2 linked regions of the Homo sapiens genome follow. The protein of the gene in region 1 interacts with the protein of each later gene in a biochemical or structural test. Each region holds a gene or a part of one and is shown in the gene's direction. Other genes may lie near its edges.

The links.
Region 2: the proteins of COQ8A (region 1) and SMURF2 interact in a surface display test, tested with the Homo sapiens proteins (one large-scale study listed by IntAct).

What each region holds. Positions count from the first base shown.
Region 1 is NC_000001.11:226,981,498-226,985,308, forward strand, and holds part of COQ8A (atypical kinase COQ8A, mitochondrial), read left to right. Parts: intron 1-529; coding exon 530-652; intron 653-1,180; coding exon 1,181-1,266; intron 1,267-1,396; coding exon 1,397-1,537; intron 1,538-2,054; coding exon 2,055-2,136; intron 2,137-2,263; coding exon 2,264-2,357; intron 2,358-2,596; coding exon 2,597-2,738; intron 2,739-3,050; coding exon 3,051-3,158; intron 3,159-3,378; coding exon 3,379-3,444; intron 3,445-3,756; coding exon 3,757-3,811. UniProt on the Homo sapiens protein: Atypical kinase involved in the biosynthesis of coenzyme Q, also named ubiquinone, an essential lipid-soluble electron transporter for aerobic cellular respiration.
Region 2 is NC_000017.11:64,550,497-64,554,307, reverse strand, and holds part of SMURF2 (E3 ubiquitin-protein ligase SMURF2), read left to right. Parts: intron 1-2,603; coding exon 2,604-2,724; intron 2,725-3,811. UniProt on the Homo sapiens protein: E3 ubiquitin-protein ligase which accepts ubiquitin from an E2 ubiquitin-conjugating enzyme in the form of a thioester and then directly transfers the ubiquitin to targeted substrates.

The sequences.
Region 1 (3,811 bases):
TTGGCCTGAGCGCCGTTCCCTTGAGGACAGCCCTCTGGCTGAAGCCACTTGGCCCCATGTGCAAATGCATGCCGACCCCACAGGTGCAGCGGGCCTTTGTGCAGTGCCCTGGGTGGGGGTGCACAGGGCAAAGGCTCGGCACCTCCTCACCTGGGGTCCTCTGGGTCCCTACATCCCTCTTGGTTCCCACTCCCACGCCCCTTCCAGCCACAGGCAGCACCATGGCCCTGTCACGGCCCGCCAGGTCCCCATATGGAAGGGAGAGGCCCTTTGTGTGTGTGCGTTTGTGTGTGCACATATGTACGTGTGCATGCCTGTGTGTATTGGGAGGCGCTGGCGTAGGGCCTGGGCATGTGGCTCACACAGGCTTGGGGAGGTGGACATGGAACAGTAGTTAGTTATGTTGCTGGTTTTATGGACGCCTGGGAGGAAGGACATTGTCTGAGCCTCCGTCTGTATCAGGTGGGGCTTGCCATCCCACTCCCAGACCCCCCCGAGTGCCGTGGTGACCCCTCTTGCCCGCCCACAGGGAAGAAGGCCGTGCTGGGTTCCAGTCCTTTCCTGTCCGAGGCCAATGCAGAGCGGATCGTGCGCACGCTCTGCAAGGTGCGTGGTGCGGCACTCAAGCTGGGCCAGATGCTGAGCATCCAGGGTGAGTGGGCGCGGGGGCTGCTGCCCCGGGACTGCGTGGGCTGCTGGGGGGGTCAACTTCCAGGGCCGGGAGCAGTGGCCCCACCAAAGCTCAGTGGGCAAGATGTGAGCAGGCTGGGGAGAGATCTTAGAAGATAATAGGCCTGGTCTCCAGACGGGTGGCTCTGGGTCCAAAGAAACACATGGAATAAAGAGCAGAGAGGAAAAATTGCTCTCTACAGGTGGTCAGAACACAGGTCATTTCAACATTTTACTATGTTTTATTTTCCAAATTTCTTTTGTAATTATGAAAAACTCTGCATGTTGAGTGTAAAAAGCCCACCTTCTCAGGTCACTGGGCGGAGGCTGGGGCTCCCGGGAAGCTGAGTGGCCGAGGGCGTGTGTGCGAGGGCTCCTGTCTTTCTGGCCTCACCCGTGCTCCTGGTGGGGAGGGTGTGGTGGCCAGGGCATCCCAGGAGTGTGCCCGCCCAGGTCCTGGGCGCACACTTTAATCCCCAGGTTCGCCCTGTGTCATTCTCCTGCCTTCCAGATGATGCCTTTATCAACCCCCACCTGGCTAAGATCTTCGAGCGGGTGCGGCAGAGCGCGGACTTCATGCCACTGAAGCAGATGATGGTGAGGAGCCAGGGGCTCTGCCCACTCTCTGTGGCCTCGGCCCCCACTGGGTGGAGGGGACAGACTTGGGGCTTCTCCCGGTGGCCCAGGCAGGGCATGCTCAGAGCCCCTCCCTGGCCCTGCCCTTCAGAAAACTCTCAACAACGACCTGGGCCCCAACTGGCGGGACAAGTTGGAATACTTCGAGGAGCGGCCCTTCGCCGCCGCATCCATTGGGCAGGTGCACTTGGCCCGAATGAAGGGCGGCCGCGAGGTGGCCATGAAGATCCAGGTAGGCGGCCTGATGCGCAGTGCCTGTCCCTATGGGGGCTGCAAGGGGCAGAGCTGGGGCCTGGCTCATGGAGGCCTCTACACCCCACGTCCCGCAGGGCACCCTCTCTCCTGGCAGGGCCATATGTGGTGTCTTCTGGCCCCAGTGCCTGGACGGCACCAGAAGCTTGGGAAGTATTTGCTAAATGAGTGACTTTGGGGGCACAGAGGGGCCCCCAGCAAGCTTGATTTGGGGTGGGCAAGGACAGGGGACAAGTGATTGCTTTTTGGGGCCAGAGCTGGTGGGAGGGTGGCCGTGAGCTGTTCCCAGGGGTGAGGTGAGGCAGGAGTAGGTGGACAACGAGGCTGTGATGGGGTCCAGGTCACGGCAGCATGGCTGGGTCTTAGCTCTGGTTCTCCAGGGTGTGGGCTGGGGCCAGGACACAGCTGGGAAGCCAGTTGGGGGTTGGGGGAGTGCCCCAGGCAGGGCCCACCCGTCTCCCTGGGCTAACTCCCCTGCCTCACCCATACCCCCACAGTACCCTGGCGTGGCCCAGAGCATCAACAGTGATGTCAACAACCTCATGGCCGTGTTGAACATGAGCAACATGCTTCCAGAAGGTCTGAGGCTAGGTGGTTGGGTCAAGGGCAGGAGTGGGTGGCAGGCATCTGTGTTGGGTTCTGGGGACCAGAGGGGGTCCTCCCTGCAGAGCCCCCTTCCTCGCTGATGCCCTCCTCCCTGGCCCAGGCCTGTTCCCCGAGCACCTGATCGACGTGCTGAGGCGGGAGCTGGCCCTGGAGTGTGACTACCAGCGAGAGGCCGCCTGTGCCCGCAAGTTCAGGTGTGGCCCCCGGCCGGGCCCCTTGCGTGTTTGCACCAGGGAGGCAGAAGGGACCATGTTCAGCAGCTGGTGAAGGCCCCTCCAGCTCTGAGGGGCAGAGGGCTGGGGTTGCAGCCTGGGCCGAGGCCATATCCTGCCTGGGGTGAAGGAGGGCCCTCTGCCTGGTTGGGGGGTGTGTGTGGGGGGGGGGACGGTGTGGAGGGCCTGTGGCTAGGGCGTGACCTCCCTCCCCTACCCAGGGACCTGCTGAAGGGCCACCCCTTCTTCTATGTGCCTGAGATTGTGGATGAGCTCTGCAGCCCACATGTGCTGACCACAGAGCTGGTGTCTGGCTTCCCCCTGGACCAGGCCGAAGGGCTCAGCCAGGAGATTCGGAACGAGGTTTGTCTGTGCCAGCAGACAGGTGGGGCCAGGGTGGCCCTGCTGTGTGGCTGTTTGGTGACCTAATAGTGTGAGCTGGGGACTTGGAGCCCTGAGGTGCTCCCTGGGGGTGAGGGGCAGTGAAGTAGCACCAGTGGGACTTAGGGGGACACAGGGGAGCTGCTGCCTTCCCTGGCCCAAGTAACACTGGGAATCAAACAGTCCCTAGGGTAGGGTGGGTAAAACAGGAGGCAGGGGCTTCTCTGGCCCCAGTCTCCCAGGGCACCAGGCAGTGTGGTGCTGCCTGACACAGACCCTTCGCGCTGTCCACAGATCTGCTACAACATCCTGGTTCTGTGCCTGAGGGAGCTGTTCGAGTTCCACTTCATGCAAACAGACCCCAACTGGTCCAACTTCTTCTATGACCCCCAGCAGCACAAGGTGAGCCCCAGGGTGGGGGCACCCGCAGCCAGGCCTGAGAGCTTCTCCGAATGGGGCACGTGAGGCCCTGGACTGCCCCTTGTCCTGGGAAAGTCAGCAGAGAGCTCAGGGCTCTGGGAGTGGGGATCCTCACTGCCCTCTGTTGCACCCCCTTCCCGGCCCCACACACCCGCACCATGGAGCACCAGGGCCAAACTTCTCCTGGTGTCTCTGTCCCCAGGTGGCTCTTTTGGATTTTGGGGCAACGCGGGAATATGACAGATCCTTCACCGACCTCTACATTCAGGTAACTGGAGAGGGGCCCTGGCCTTGGTCCATGTTTTTCTGAGGCTGGGACAGGATGCTGGGGGACTCGGGGTAGGGAGAATGACTGGGTTCCTGCCCTTGTGTCCCCATCTGCGCTGCCTGCCCCTCAGGTCTGGTGACAGCAGGCAGTTAGGCTGACAGCTGCCAGGCGTGGTGTCACAGCACTGGCCGGGGGCCCTGTGCAGGGAGAGGATGAGGGTGGGGTGGGCTCGGGTGTGGCACTTGGCTCCCTGGGATGTCGGGAGCTGAGCTTTTCATGCTGCCCACGGTCCCCTCCTGTGCCTCTCCCCAGATCATCAGGGCTGCTGCCGACAGGGACAGGGAGACTGTGCGGGCGAAATCCATAG
Region 2 (3,811 bases), on another chromosome or scaffold:
GGCCAACATGACTTCTGCTGTCTACTTCTGGTTAAACTGAGACAGCCAGCCCAGTTTCATCATGGAGGAGGAGCTGTACAAATGTGTGAATACCAGGAGATGTGGGCACTGGGGCCACATGTGGTGTAGCTATCACAGGTGGCAATTCAGAAGGGCTTTTGTGCTTTATCTTACTAACACTTAGCCTGTTTATAAATGAGCACATTGTGAGTTTAGGGATAAATGTAAATAAATGTTTTTCAGATTTCATAAAGTAAAAATTGAGGAATTTTTATGTATTGGGCTAATTTGGCTTATGAGAAATAAAAAGTCCTCTAAATATAGAACTATGGTAATCAGTTTTGGGAGTTTGAACTTGAACTTTATGTACACAGAAACTTGCATGATATACTTTCTGTGTATAGATTATGTTCCCAAATCTTACTAAAATGTTTCCTAGTTTAAATATGAGGTCCACTTGATTGGAGTGAACACTGGCATAGCTTTTCTGGAAAGCAGTTTGATACCAGCAGCATGTGCCCTTCAACTAGCAGCTCTGTGTTTAGGGCTCTTCTGCAGAAACACACATGTAACTGAACGAATACGGGGAAAGACGGTCAATTAAATGCTACTTGTGAAAAAAAGTTACACTACTAAAATGGTTTTAGAGAAGAATGATTATATTATACATTCAGCAGAATATTATGTGGATATTTAAAAGTGCATAAGCTGTCAAATTTTAAAAGTAAGTCTTAGAAGAATTATGTAGGAACAAAATCCATGGTTTTTTTTTTGTTTTTTGTTTTGTTTTTTTGGGTTTTTTTGAGGTGGAGTCTCGCTCTGTTGCTCAGGCTGGAGTGCAGTGGCAAGATCTTGGCTCACTGCACCTCTGCCTCCCAGGTTCAAGTGATTCTCCTGCCTCAGCCTCCCGAGTAGCTGGGAGTACAGGTACGCACAACCACACCTGGCAACTTTTTTTTATTATTAGCAGAGATGGGGTTTCACCATATTGGCCAGGCTGGTCTCAAACTCCTGACCTCGTGATCTGCTTGCCTCAGCCTCCCAAAGTGCTGGGATTACAGGTGTAAGCCACCGTGCCTGGCTGTTTTTTTATGATTATACTGAAGATGTTCAGGAGGCTGCAACCAAATAAAGTTTTTGCCTAGGATGAGGGAGTGGAGATGATGCGACTGGAAATAGGAAGGAGAAAGAGGGTAAAAGAATGGACTTTCATATTTTACTGTCTCCATAGTTAATGTTTGATTTTTTTGTTATATACGTAAAAAGTATGTATTACGTTTCTACTTAAAAAAAATGAAAGAACAGGCTGGGTGCAGTGGCTCATGCCTGTATTCCCAGCATTTTGGGAGGCCAAGGTGGGTGGATCACCTGAGGTCAGGAGCTCAAGACCAGCCTAGCCAACATTGTGAAACCTTGTCTCTACTAAAAATACAAAAATTAGCTAAGCGTGTTGGCAGGCACCTGTAATCCCAGCTACTTTGGAGCCCGAGGCAGGAGAACCGCTTGAACCTGGGAGGTGGAGGTTGCAGTGAGCTGAGATCGCACCACTGTATTCCAGCCTGGGTGACAGAACGAGACTCCACCTAATATAAATTAAAAATAATAAAAAAAGAACAAATGAGAATTTCCTAAGTCTTAGCAGTGTCTCCTTTTCAAGACCTCGTGTGTCCTACTCAGTCCCTGGATCCCACTCTTCAGGGTTCAGTCGTGTTTACAGCACGTAATAATCCCTTGCCAACTACAGTTATTAGATTAAAAATTCAAAGAAAAACTTTTACAGTTACACAGTTTTGCTGTCCCCTTAACCCAACAAACAAAAATACGGTCCTCCAAAGGATATAATGTTAAGTAACTTATTTCTTAAAGTAGAGAACCATTTCTCCAAATTTGGAAATGTTAACAAATTTGACAGATGAGTAAGTTCTGTGATGCATGAGATGGAGAAGTTTTCTTGGGTAGATAAATAAAAACAATTCACTTATAAATCGTACATTCACACAATAGATGTAGTTTAGTGCATTTTTTTATTGGTAAAATTACATCTTCCAGAATTTTTATATCCTCTAGAGAACAATGATTATTTAATCAAAAAGTGCTTGCTATTGGCTTTTACTATTTATTCTTCTCATTTTTGGTATGAGGATTCTCTACCTCCTCTTCTCCCGTAGGCCTCCCTCAAATAGAAACAAAACACCCAACACATTCAAATTACATTTGCAAGTAAAATCAGAAAAATAAGTCATTTTTGAGTGAAAGAGCTCTTTATTCTAGTTATTGGCATGTATGCTGTAAGTTTAGAAAGAAATTTCATCAAGACTCAGCTCTAGTAGACGTCCTGTTTCCTGGGAGCTTCTCTGATTTGAAGGGTTGCTCTGCTGATGCTGCTTTTGTTAGTAGTTTACCACTTTTCATCAACATTGAACTGTGTCACACCTCAGGGTTCATTTATCCCCATTAGTCTGAGATTTATTGTTAGACTTGAGGCTAAACCGTTAATGTTAGATGCTTGTAAGATGCGGTGTTGCTAAAGTAGAGATTTATAATAATAATTACCAGATCTGAAAATACATGTGATTATACGAAATCCTGCCGAATGTTTACAGGCTCTATGTGAACTGGAGATTTTTACGAGGCATTGAGGCTCAATTCTTGGCTCTGCAGAAAGGATTTAATGAAGTAATTCCACAACATCTGCTGAAGACATTTGATGAGAAGGAGTTAGAGGTTAGTGCATTAGTATTATAACATCACTAGTGTAACAAGGAAGGATTGGGAATTATTTTGTTACTTAGTTTTAGAGGAAAGCATATTTCTGGTGCTTTCTAAGTTTCATGGTTCTATGCTTGAGAATTCTTATTCACAGGAAAAGTCTTTCATGCTTTTGAAGGCCTTTCATGCTTTGGAATTTCTGTGAGTGAACAATCTGTCTCTCTCTCTCTTTTTTTTTTTCTGAGACAGGGTCTCACTCTGTCACCCAGGCTGGGGTGCAGTGGTGCAATCATGGCTCACTGCAGCCTTGACCTCCTGGGCTCAAATGATCCTTCAGCCCCTCAAGTAGCTGAGACTACAAGCATGCACCAGCACCCCTGGCTAATTTTTTTGTTTTTTTTGGTAGAGACAGGGTTTTGCCATGTTTCCCAGGGTGGTCTCAAACTCCTGAGCTCAAGTGATCCGCCTGCCTTGGCCTCCCAAAGTGCTAGGATTATAGGCTTGAGCCACCATGCCCAGCTGTGAGCAGTCTCTCTTATATTGTGAAAATTTTTAATTTATTTTTCTATCCTGTACTTTCTTGTTTTAAACAGATTTCGTGACTTATATGTACATTCTTCCAATATATGTCTATTCCCTAACTTAGTGGTTACTGATTTAGTTAAGTAAAACCTCATTAATCTACCATTTTGAAATTTATTTGGGTAAGAGCCTACTCTGAATTAGTTTTACACTAAGCTTGCAAGAAAGCATTTGATAGACAAGATCATCGAGAAAATAACTAAAACACCTAGGATAAATTGAATCTAAATGTCTCTCTCTTTTTTTTTTTTTTTTTTTTGGAGACAGAGTTGCCCAGGCTGGAGGGCAGTGGCACTGCAACCTCCACCTCCTGGATTCAAGTGATTCTCCTGCCTCAGCCTCCCAAGTAGCTGGGACTACAGGCACCTGCCACCACGTCCAGCTAATTTTTGTATTTTTAGTAGAAACGGGGTTTCACCATGTTGGCCAGGCTGGCCTGGGACTCCTGACCTCAAATAATCCACCCACCTCGGCCTTCCACAGTGCTGGGATTACAGGTGTGAGCCACCGCACCTGGCCT